4 separate regions of the Homo sapiens genome follow, and regions 1, 2 and 4 are each linked to region 3. Evidence: fine-mapped expression QTL. A gene starts in region 3. Each other region holds a variant in brackets. All regions are shown on one strand. Distances are between the middles of the regions.

The links. PIP is the estimated chance that this variant, and not a neighbour inherited with it, causes the effect.
Region 1: its variant is fine-mapped to the expression of SLC22A31 in caudate (GTEx, PIP 0.96).
Region 2: its variant is fine-mapped to the expression of SLC22A31 in fibroblasts (GTEx, PIP above 0.99).
Region 4: its variant is fine-mapped to the expression of SLC22A31 in whole blood (INTERVAL, PIP 0.99).

The regions. Positions count from the first base shown.
Region 1 is chr16:89,226,984-89,229,666 of GRCh38, forward strand. It overlaps ZNF778 (zinc finger protein 778), which reads left to right. Exons shown (of 7, transcript NM_001201407.2): 7 at 1-2,683. The coding sequence ends at 1,579. Among named protein-coding and RNA genes, the nearest start is that of ZNF778, 11 kb to the left of the region's middle. The variant C/T (reference allele first, on the strand shown) is at 1,204.
Region 2 is chr16:89,232,645-89,235,298 of GRCh38, forward strand. It overlaps ZNF778 (zinc finger protein 778), which reads left to right. Exons shown (of 7, transcript NM_001201407.2): 7 at 1-2,654. Among named protein-coding and RNA genes, the nearest start is that of ZNF778, 16 kb to the left of the region's middle. The variant C/T (reference allele first, on the strand shown) is at 1,373.
Region 3 is chr16:89,199,431-89,202,113 of GRCh38, forward strand. SLC22A31 (solute carrier family 22 member 31) reads right to left here and starts at 1,107. Exons shown (of 9, transcript NM_001384763.1): 1 at 1,048-1,107; 2 at 283-386; 3 at 1-137. The coding sequence starts at 1,071. RefSeq lists enhancers at 1-10, 1,259-1,881 and a silencer at 2,174-2,263.
Region 4 is chr16:89,241,302-89,243,984 of GRCh38, forward strand. No RefSeq gene overlaps it. Among named protein-coding and RNA genes, the nearest start is that of ZNF778, 25 kb to the left of the region's middle. RefSeq lists an enhancer at 324-840. The variant T/C (reference allele first, on the strand shown) is at 1,431.

The DNA.
Region 1 (2,683 bases), 28 kb after region 3:
AGTGTTCCTTAATCAGTCATACCTTCAGGCACGTGCGGGAAGTCACAACGGAGAAGAAACATGGAAATGGAAGCCGTGTGGGAAAGCTCTAACTCACTCCATGGGCTGCGCCACACCTGTTGAAATGCATGCCGTCAGGAATCCCCACGTATGTAGGGAATGTGGGAAGGCCTTTAGGTACACTGCCTACCTTACTGGTCGCGTGCAAGTCCACCCTGGGGAAAAGCCCTGTGAATTGGAAGAATGTGGAAAAGCCTCCCCTGTTTCTTCCAGCCTAACTCAACATGTAAGAATTCATGCTGCAGAGAAACCCTGTGAATGTAAAGAATGCGGAAAAGCCTTCACTGGACTCTCAGGTCTTTCTAAACACGTCCAAACAGACCCTGGACAGAAGCCCTATGAATGTAAGGACTGTGGGAAAGCCTGCGGTGGGTTTTATCTACTGAATGAGCATGGAAAAACTCACACGAGGGAGAAGCCCTTTGCATGTGTGGTTTGCGGAAAATATTTTAGAAATTCCTCATGCCTTAATAATCATGTTCGAATTCACACTGGAATAAAACCCTATACATGCAGCTACTGTGGGAAGGCCTTCACTGTGCGCTGTGGCCTTACTAGACACGTACGAACACACACGGGCGAGAAGCCATACACGTGTAAGGACTGCGGGAAAGCCTTCTGTACATCCTCGGGCCTTACTGAGCATGTAAGGACTCACACTGGAGAGAAACCATATGAATGTAAAGATTGTGGGAAATCCTTCACTGTTTCTTCAAGCCTGACTGAGCACGCGAGAATCCATACCGGAGAGAAACCCTACGAATGTAAGCAGTGTGGCAAAGCCTTCACAGGGCGCTCAGGCCTCACTAAACACATGCGGACACACACCGGGGAGAAGCCCTATGAATGTAAGGACTGTGGGAAAGCCTACAATAGGGTTTATCTACTGAATGAGCATGTGAAAACTCACACAGAGGAGAAGCCCTTTATATGTACGGTATGCAGGAAATCCTTCAGAAATTCCTCGTGCCTGAATAAGCACATTCAGATTCACACTGGAATAAAACCTTATGAATGTAAGGACTGTGGGAAAACATTCACTGTTTCTTCGAGCCTAACCGAGCACATACGAACTCACACTGGAGAGAAACCTTATGAATGTAAAGTATGCGGAAAGGCCTTCACCACATCCTCACACCTTAT[C/T]GTGCACATAAGAACCCACACCGGTGAGAAACCCTACATATGTAAGGAGTGTGGGAAAGCCTTTGCTTCCTCCTCACACCTTATCGAACACAGAAGGACTCACACAGGAGAGAAACCTTACATATGTAACGAGTGTGGGAAAGCCTTCCGTGCCTCCTCTCACCTGCATAAACATGGAAGAATTCACACTGGGCAGAAACCCTATAAATGTAAGGAATGTGGGAAAGCATACAATAGGTTTTATCTACTAAAAGAACATTTAAAAACTTACACTGAAGAGCAGGTTTTTGTATGTAAGGACTGTGGAAAATCTTTTAAGAATTCCTCATGCCTTAACCATCACACTCAAATTCACACTGATGAGAAACCTTTCTAATGTAAAGAATGTGGGGAAGCTGTCAGCTACACTCATTCACGTTGAAGACATGAAAGACCTCTCGTTCTCCAGATGTCCATGACTTGAGGAATGTGGCTAGGCAATCAGCATCTCATCACAACCCGGCAGGCAGGAACTCACCCTGGAGCCCTATGCAGCAGACACAGAGAAAGCCCTCAGTGTTCTCTAAGGTCTTGCTGAATATGGATGGTATCCAGTAGAGAGAACTCTATTGATGTGTGATATGCAGCAGCATTGTTGCTGTTCTGCTCAGTACTTTGATGATCCCTTGTGATCTCACAATGAAGAAAAACCTTAGGAGGGTGAGAATTGTTGGGAAGTCATTTTTTACATTACATCTTTCCTCACCCTTTAGTAAACGTGGTGATTGACACTTGAAGTGTTGTGAATGTATGGAAGATAGCAGTCGCTTCCCTGTGTTCTAAAACCTTGTGGGCTAACTTGAGACATGTCTTTCTGGGGGTTCTGTAGACGTATTTTGAATCTTTATGATGCTGCACTGATCATTCTTGGAGTGAGGACTCTGTTCCCTGTAGAAATCCTCCAGTCTGGTTGCTACAGTGTCCACGTCGCAGCCTGGCTAACAGTAGGCCTTGAGGACTCAGATGTGATCCTGTGTGAGCAGTGTAGGCTCTGGTTGGTTAGTCTTGAGGATCCAGATGTGATTCTTTGAGCAGCGTAGGCTCTGGTTGGTTAGTCTTGAGGATCCAGATGTGATTCTGTGAGCAGTGTAAGCTCTGGTTGGTTAGTCTTCAGGATCCAGATGTGATCTTGTGTGAGCACTGTAGGCTCTGGTTGGTTAGTCTTGAGGATCCAGATGTGATTCTGTGAGCAGTGTAGGCTCTGGTTGGTTAGTCTTGAGGATGCAGATGTGATTCTGTGTGAGCAGCGTAGGCTCTGGTTGGTTAGTCTTGAGGATCCAGATGTGATTCTGTGAGCAGCATAGGCTCTGGTTGGTTAGTCTTGAGGATCCAGATGTGATTCTGTGAGCAGCGTAGGCTCTGGTTGGTTAGTCTTGAGGATCCAGATGTGATTCTGTGAGCAGCGTAGGCTCTGCTTGGTTAGTCTTGAGGATCCAGATGT
Region 2 (2,654 bases), 33 kb after region 3:
TTTTTTTTTTTTGTTAGGGTACATTTTCATCCTGGGGTCTTGCTGTGGGGGCTAGACCGTCCCTCTCAGGCTAGATCATTCCTAAAGATGGTAAACAACTTGCTGGAAACATGCACTGCATATACAAATCAACTCACTGCATATGCACATCAACTCACTGCATATGCAACTCAACTCACACCGTATATGCAACTCAACTCACACCGTGTATGCAAATCAACTCGCACTGCGTATGCAACTCAACTCGCACTGCGTATGCAACTCAACTCGCACTGCGTATGCGAATCCACTCACTGCCTATGCAACTCAGCTCGCTCTGCGTATGCAACTGAGCTCGCTCTGCGTATGCAACCCAGCTCGCTCTGCGTATGCAACTCAAGTCGCACTGCGTATGCAACTCAGCTCGCTCTGCGTATGCAACTCAGCTCGCACTGCGTATGCAACTCAGCTCGCACTGCGTATGCAAGTCAGCTCGCTCTGCGTATGCAACTCAGCTCGCTCTGCGTATGCAACTCAGCTCGCACTGCGTATGCAACTCAGCTCGCACTGCGTATGCAACTCAGCTCGCTCTGCGTATGCAACTCAGCTCGCTCTGCGTATGCAACTCAGCTCGCTCTGCGTATGCAACTCAGCTCGCACTGCGTATGCAACTCAGCTCGCTCTGCGTATGCAACTCAGCTCGCTCTGCGTATGCAACTCAGCTCGCACTGCGTATGCAACTCGCACTGCGTATGCAACTCAACTCGCACTGCGTATGCAACTCAACTCGCACTGCGTATGCAACTCAACTCGCACTGCGTGTGCAACTCAACTCGCACTGCGTGTGCAACTCAACTCACACTGCGTATGCAACTCAGCTTGCTCTGTGTATGCAACTCAACTCGCACTGCGTATGCAAATCAACTCACTGCATATGCAACTCAGCTCGCACTGCATATGCAACGCAACTCAACTCATACTGCATATGCAACTCAACTCACACTGTATGCAACTCAGCTCGCTCTGCATATGCAATTCAACTCGCACTGCGTATGCAAATCAACTTACTGCATATGCAACTCAACTCACTGCGTATGCAACTCAACTCGCACTGCATATGCAACTCAACTCGCACTGCGTATGCAACTCAACTCGCACTGCGTATGCAACTCAGCTCGCACTGCGTATGCAACTCAACTGTTGCAAGTACTTATTTCCGGCCACTTCCTTTTTCTAACTACCACACCAAGCCAGTATTTCTCCTCCCTGAAGTCAGCCCAGGATGAGGCACTAGACAGCAGGACATGCTGTATGCCCTTGGGCCTGCTGGAAGTATGCAGACTAGCCAGCCCCAGACTTCATCCTGCCCTGTCCTGCCTTTCCTGTGAAAACC[C/T]TGTGGCCTCTGCCTCCCCTGGCTCTGACTTCTGCCTCCTGCCCAGCTCTGCAGCTCCCCTTGGGCCCTGCCTGGAGTGATGTGCCGCCTTCTCTTGACACTGTGAGTGATAAACTTTCCATGTCAGGAACCTGTGTGTGTCACTCACTCACCTTGACGAGTCCGCGTCTAGGCCCCACCAGTGGTGTGGTTTTCCTCATAGTCTCTCTACCTAAGCACATGTCTGTGACAAGGTCTTACCCAGCCCAGGGATTCTTGAACTATCTGTAGGAACTGCCATGTTGACTCCTGGGCAGTTTTATTCTTTCTCTCTACTCGTTCAACCTTCTTAGGGAGTGACGTTTTTTCCAAAGTGGTTGTGAAACAGCATCTCCTTGGGGTGTTGGTTTGCACTTCTCTTCATTACTGATAGTATGAACATGGTTTTGCTTACGCTGGCTATTTTCCTTTTTGGATGAAGTACCTGGTCTTGTTTTTTCCTGGTTTGTTTGATCTTTGTTCTTTTTTAGAAATAGTGAGGCTGTTGTGAGGTGAGTCACCACTTGTGACTTAGAAGATTGCAGTGGTTTCCACTTCACCTGTTTCCACTTTTGTGATGATGCCTTAAGGAAAAAGATTGTGCCAGGTGTGGTGGCTCAGGCCTGTAATCCCAACACTTTGGGAGGCCGAGGTGGGTGGATCACAAGGTCAGGAGATCAAGACCATCCTGGCCAACATGGTGAAACGCCATCTCTACTAAAAATAGAAAAATTGGCTAGATGTGGTGGTGCACGCCTGTAATCCCAGCTCCTTGGGAGGCTGAGGCAGGAGAATTGCTTGAAGATGGGAAGCACAGATTGCAGTGAACCGAGATCGCGCCACTGCACTCCAGCCTGGCAACAGAGTGAGACTCTGTCTCAAAAAAAAAGGAAAAATATTTCTTAATTTTGGCATACTCAAATTTATACAACCTTTCCTTTATCTTCATCAGAAATTTCTTTTCTCCTAAGGCCTTAAATATGCTGTACTATTTTGGCTTCCACAGTTTCTATGTTTTATCCCAAGTTGCTTAATCCATTTGGAGTTGATTTTTGTTGACCGTATCTGTAGAGTGTAATGTCATTTTTCCCACTATGGACATAAAAATTTTTGCAAGGCCTCTTTTTTTTAATGAAGAAAAGAGGTTTATTTTGTTCACAATTCTGAAGGCCTGGAGGGTCCCAGAAGCTTGGCACCAGCACCCACTAGGCTCCAGATCGGGGCCTCATGCTGACTTCCGTTTTCACACAACGAGTGGGAAACA
Region 3 (2,683 bases):
GGAGGGCCCCTGCCAATGTGCCCCCGTGGAGTAGGCGCAGGACCAGCAGGGTAGGGAAGCTGGCAGCCAGGGCCTCACTGGCCCCCAGGCCTGTGGTCAGCACCAGGGAGGCCACAAAAACTGCCCGGCGTCCAAACCTGGTGGGCAGCGGGGGACATGCTTGGACAGGGTCAGGATAACCCAGGGTCCAACCTTCATCCTGGCAGCACCAGGTCTAGCTGAACCCTGAGAGTGGGCGGAGGGGAGGGCTGCTGGGCAGCAGGAAAAGGGAAGGGGCCTCACCGGTCACAGCCTGCTCCCAGGATGACACAGCCCAGCAGCCAGCCCAGGAGGTGGCTCACCTGCTCCAGCGGGACCTTCCAGCCGTCTCCACACACAAGGTTCCACTATGGGGAACAGCAGCCACGTGGAGGCCAGCTCAGGACCCTCCCCTGGGGACAGGTGCAGGGAGTCCCAGAATGGCTACTGGAAGGGGCCCTCCATGTCCTGCTCAATCCCTCCGTGGAGAGAAGGGGAAACTGAGGCATGAGAGGGCAAGGGGCTTGGTCCAGGTCACACAGCAGCCTCTCTGGTCTCCGGCAGCCCCTGCACAGGGGTCGGGGGGATCTGCCCACCCTAAGTTTTCTGCTTGTCCCTAGATAGGGCCTCCCCCACCTCCGCACACCATTGCTCTTCCCCCACGGCCAGCTCTTGTCCGACCCGTTTCCACCTCCTATTCCGAGGGACCCCGGGGACACCCAGGGCCTTGGTGGCGTCATAGACACAGCCCCCACCCCAGCCGGCCAAGGGTCATAGCCATGACACAGGCCTAAGAAATGAACCCCAGCACCTGCGCTGGTACCCACGCCCTCCCTGCCCTGCCCATTTCAAGAGGGACTCGGGCAGCGGCTGGAGAGCTGTGCTCAGCGGCATTTCCCGGTGAGGCCCTTGACCCTTGACCTCAGCTCTGCGCCTCCCCCCACCCCTTCCGGTTCCTGGGTCTTCTTGGCAAGCTTAATCTACTGCTGGGGGCCGTGCTATGCCCGAGATTTTACTTTCAAACCTGACGTTTTGGGAAAGCTGATGGGGCATTCCTGGATCCAGGCACCAAACAGGAGGAGGGCAGGTGGGAGGTGGGAGGGAGCAGGGTGGAGAGAGAAGCCCGGCGGGTTCCAGGGCCCCAGGCAGCCCTTGTGAAGATGTGGCAACCCCGTTCCAGTTTCCACACTGGGGCCAGTCCTCCCAGGATGGGGGATGGGGGCCTCGGGGTAAAGGCTGCCTCAGGGGTGTGCAGGTCTCAGCCCCAGCGCGGAAAGGCATGAAAGGGGCCTGGAGGTCCCTGCCGCCCGCCTCCCCATCTCTTCTCACGCAGATCGTCAAGGTTTCCCTTCAGGCAATGCAGTCTCTAGCCCAGCCTCTGCGCACCTCACTGATGGGAAGCCCACCTTCCCCAGTCTGTGCTGACCACGTCAGTCCCTCCAAGCAGAGACTCTGCCTTGGAAAGCCAGCCCAAAGCCACGGTCTGCTGAAGACGCTGGTGGTCCTGAAGCAAATTCCAGGCCCTGCTCCCCCACCGGCGCCTTCGGCTCCAATCCTCCAGCGCCCCAGGCCGCCCCGCGCCTGGCAGCTCCCAGGCCCAGATTCAGCCCCCGCCCGGCCCCTCTCCGCGGGTCCGGCCCGTGCGCGCCCGTCTGCGGCACCGTCGGGCCGGCGGCCGCCCCGGAGCAGGAAGCCCAGGAGGACGGCCGGGGGGCCCGGGTCAGAGGCGCCAGGTAGGATGGAGAAAGGACACCCAGGGCCTCGGCGGGCTGGGGGCGGGGAGGGCTGCGGGGCAGCAGGGACGGGGGCGCACCTGGGTGACCGGGCTTTGCAGGAGGCCGGCGCCGGGCAGCGCGTAGAGCCAGCCGCGTGTGCAGGGCCGGGTGCCGTTGCGTGCGGGCGCGGGGCGCGGGCCCGGGGCGGGTGCAGGGCGCGGGATCGGGGTAGCGCAGGAGCAGGCAGGGGCTCGCGGCTCGCGTGGGCCCCAGGCGCGGGATGGCGGCGTCCAGCAGCGCGGGTCCGCGCAGGGCGCGCAGCGCTGGGGGCAACAGCGTGGGGTCCGGTCGGCAGTGGGGCGCGGGCTGCGCGGTAAGCAGCTCCTCGGAGCTCAGCACCAGCCCCAGCACTATGCAGGGTACCCACGAGGCGGAGGCCAGCAGGCGCCGGGCCCGGCCAAAGCCGCCCGCAGCTCTCAGCACCCGCGCCTCCTGCTCCATCGGTCGCAGGCTGCGCTCGGGACGGGGCGGGGCCTGGACCAGGGCGGGCTCCTGGGGCGGGGCTTTGGGGCGAGGCATTAAGGGGCGGAGCCTGAGTCCAGTGGAGGCGGGGTGTGGGGGCGGGCGGTGTGAGGGCGGGGCCTAAGGCGTAAAGGGGCGGGGCCCGATCTGGGGCATAGGGCGGGGAGGTTGAGGGGCGGGAAGGTTGAGAGGCGGGGCTTGCGGCCGAACCGCGAGGGGGCGGGGCCCCGTGAGGGCGGCACGTGGGGGCCGGGGGCGTGGCAGGGGCGTGGCCGGGAGCGCTCAGGTGCCCTCGCGGCGCAGGTGCACTCAGGTTGCCCGGGGGCGCGCGGGCTCCGGCCGGCGTCCCGGGGTGGTCCCCGCGTGGGGCCGGGGGCGTCCGCGCGGGCGGGGCGAGGTCGGGGAGGGCAGCCGCCCGCCCTCCTCGG
Region 4 (2,683 bases), 42 kb after region 3:
CGGGGGATCGGAGAGGGGCTCGTGTGCTGGGCGACAGTGACACACTCAGCAGCCCGGCGGGAGCCGCGGTCGGTACCGTCTGAAGGGCAGCCGGGGCTGGGGGACCGACAGCTCTCAGGTGTCGGTTTTTCTGTGGCTAGCGGATGTTTGGCACCATTTCACAGGGCACACAGGGCAGACGGGACCTAGATGACGACAGATCTGCGTGTTTGGGCTCTGTTTGAAACAGACCTCAGCCAGAGTCTTGAAGAGCAGAACCCGGAGTGTTGAAGTCACAAGAGATCAACATCCCTACGGTGTGAAATCCTGAAAACGGCAAATCCCAAAGGACGAAACGCCCGAAAATGATGTCATCCTTTAAGTGTTTTCTTCTTTTTTCTTTTCTTTTTCTTTTCTTTTCTTTTTTTTTTTTTTTTTGAGTCAGGATCTCGCTCTGTCGCCCAGGCTGCAGTGCAGTGCCGCTATCGTGGCTCACTGCAGCCTCAGCCTCCTGGGCTCGAGTGGTCCTCCCACCAGAGCCTCCCACACTGCTGGGATTACAGGCACCAACCACCTTGCGCAGCTAGAGAGTAATTTTTAAACTTCTTTAAAAGACAGTTAGACTGGACATGGTGGCTCACGACGGGAATCCCAGCAATTTGGGAGCTCAAGCTGGGGGGATCGCTAGAGTCCAGGAGTTTGAGACCAGCCTGGGAAACAGGGAGACCGTGTCTCTACGAAAAAAAGTTTAAAAAATTAGCCGGATGTGGTGGCTCACGCCTGTGCTTCCAGGTATTCTGGAGGCTGAGGCAGGAGAATGGCGTGAACCCGGGAGGCGGAGCTTGCAGTGAGCTGAGATCGCCCCACTGCACTCCAGCCTGGGTGACAGAGCTAGACTCTGTCTCAAAAAAAAAAAAAAAAAAAATATATATATATATATATACACACACACACACGTATGTGTGTGTGTGTATATATACATATATATTTACTATATATTTATATATGTTATATATATAAATATAGATAGATGATCAGGAAAGACGTGAGAATGTCTTCAGTTGACACCTCAGGCTGAGCATCAGCACAGAGGCAGCCCACAACAACAAAAAACACAACAGTCAACAAAACCAAAACCCAGCAAACCCTGGGGAATGGGGAGAGTCTGACTTTCAGAGTTATATTATTAGATTCAAACGTCTAATTTTTTTTTTTTTGAGACGGAGTCTCGCTCTGTCGCCCAGGCTGGAGTGCAGTGGCGCGATCTCGGCTCCCTGCAAGCTCTGCCTCCCGGGTTCACGCCATTCTCCTGCCTCAGCCTCCCGAGTAGCTGGGACTACAGGCACCCGCCACCACGCCCGGCTAATTTTTTTTGTATTTTTAGAAGAGACGGGGTTTCACCGTGTTAGCCAGGATGGTCTCGATCTCCTGACCTTGTGATCTGCCCACCT[T/C]GGCCTCCCAAAGTGCTGGGATTACAGGCGTGAGCCGCTGTGCCCGGCCTCAAACGTCTAATCTTTAACAAAAGTTCCAAGCGGGCCAAGGGCACAGATGCTGCCTGCACCTGCGCAGCCACCCACCGTCGACAGGAGAGCAGAGGCACCAGGCCTGCTCCCACCACAGAGAGAAACGGGCTCCCCAGCCCAGCTCTGGGCTGGTCAGCAACCCCCACTCCCCACCCTGCCTGCTCAAAAGAAAGGGTCCTCGTGCCTCCAGCCCCCTCCACCCTCCCTCCAGGACCTTCCTGACCATGCGCTGGGCCTGTGCAGGTGTTGAGCCACACCCACGCCCTTCCAGGGGGCGGGGTCTCGAAGGGGAGAGCAGGTGCTATAGTCAACAGGAGGGAGGGCTTCTGGCCGAGGTGGCAAGGAGGCTCCAGGAGGAGAAGACAGTGTTGACCTGGGGCGTTGAGGGATGAGGAGTCCTGTAGGCAGCAGTGGAAAGGAAGGTGCTCCAGACAGGGGGCCTCGGGGAACAAGGGGATGCTGGAGTGTCACTGGTGATGAATCTGTTCGGGTCTGCAGCAACCTCAGTTCTTGCCTCCTTAGAAGAAAGAATTCAACCGAGGGGCATAAGGCAGAGGGAGAGACCGAGGCACGCTTCAGAGCAGAAGTGAAGTTTATTAAAAAGCTTTAAAGGAGGAAGGAAAGTACGCCTGGAAGAAGGCTAGGAGGGCACCTTGAAAGACCAGTGTGTGGTTTGACCTTCTGACTTGGGGTTTGATACAGTGACATAATGCGGGGTCTTGTGTTACTTCTCCCCACCCACCCAGCTCCTGAGATCTTAACGGGAAGCTGCTGATCACCAGCTTCAGCTGTTGTCTATCTGTTAGGAGGCTGTCTTTCCCTGGCGCTGGCTGTGACCAATTATTACTTTAGAGACAGTTAACAACTACCTGACCATCACCTCATGGTGGCCAGCACACCTGTTGTGTGTGTGTGGTGGTGGGGAGCCCTCTCCTGCCCTGCTCATACCCCCTAGCTACCCACACTAACATTTCCCCCCGCAGGAGGCCAAGACCCCAGTTCTTGAGGGAAATGGACAAAGGTCAGTCTTCTGTAACTGCTGTCTGCTGACAGAGGGGCAGCGGTGGTGGTTCTGTGAGTATTGGCCTCTTGCTGTCAGGGCACGGTTGGCTCCATGGGTTAGTGAAAGTGGTGGCCAGCCAGGGAGCGGTATCCAGGGAGACGGGCAGGATTGTGCCTCT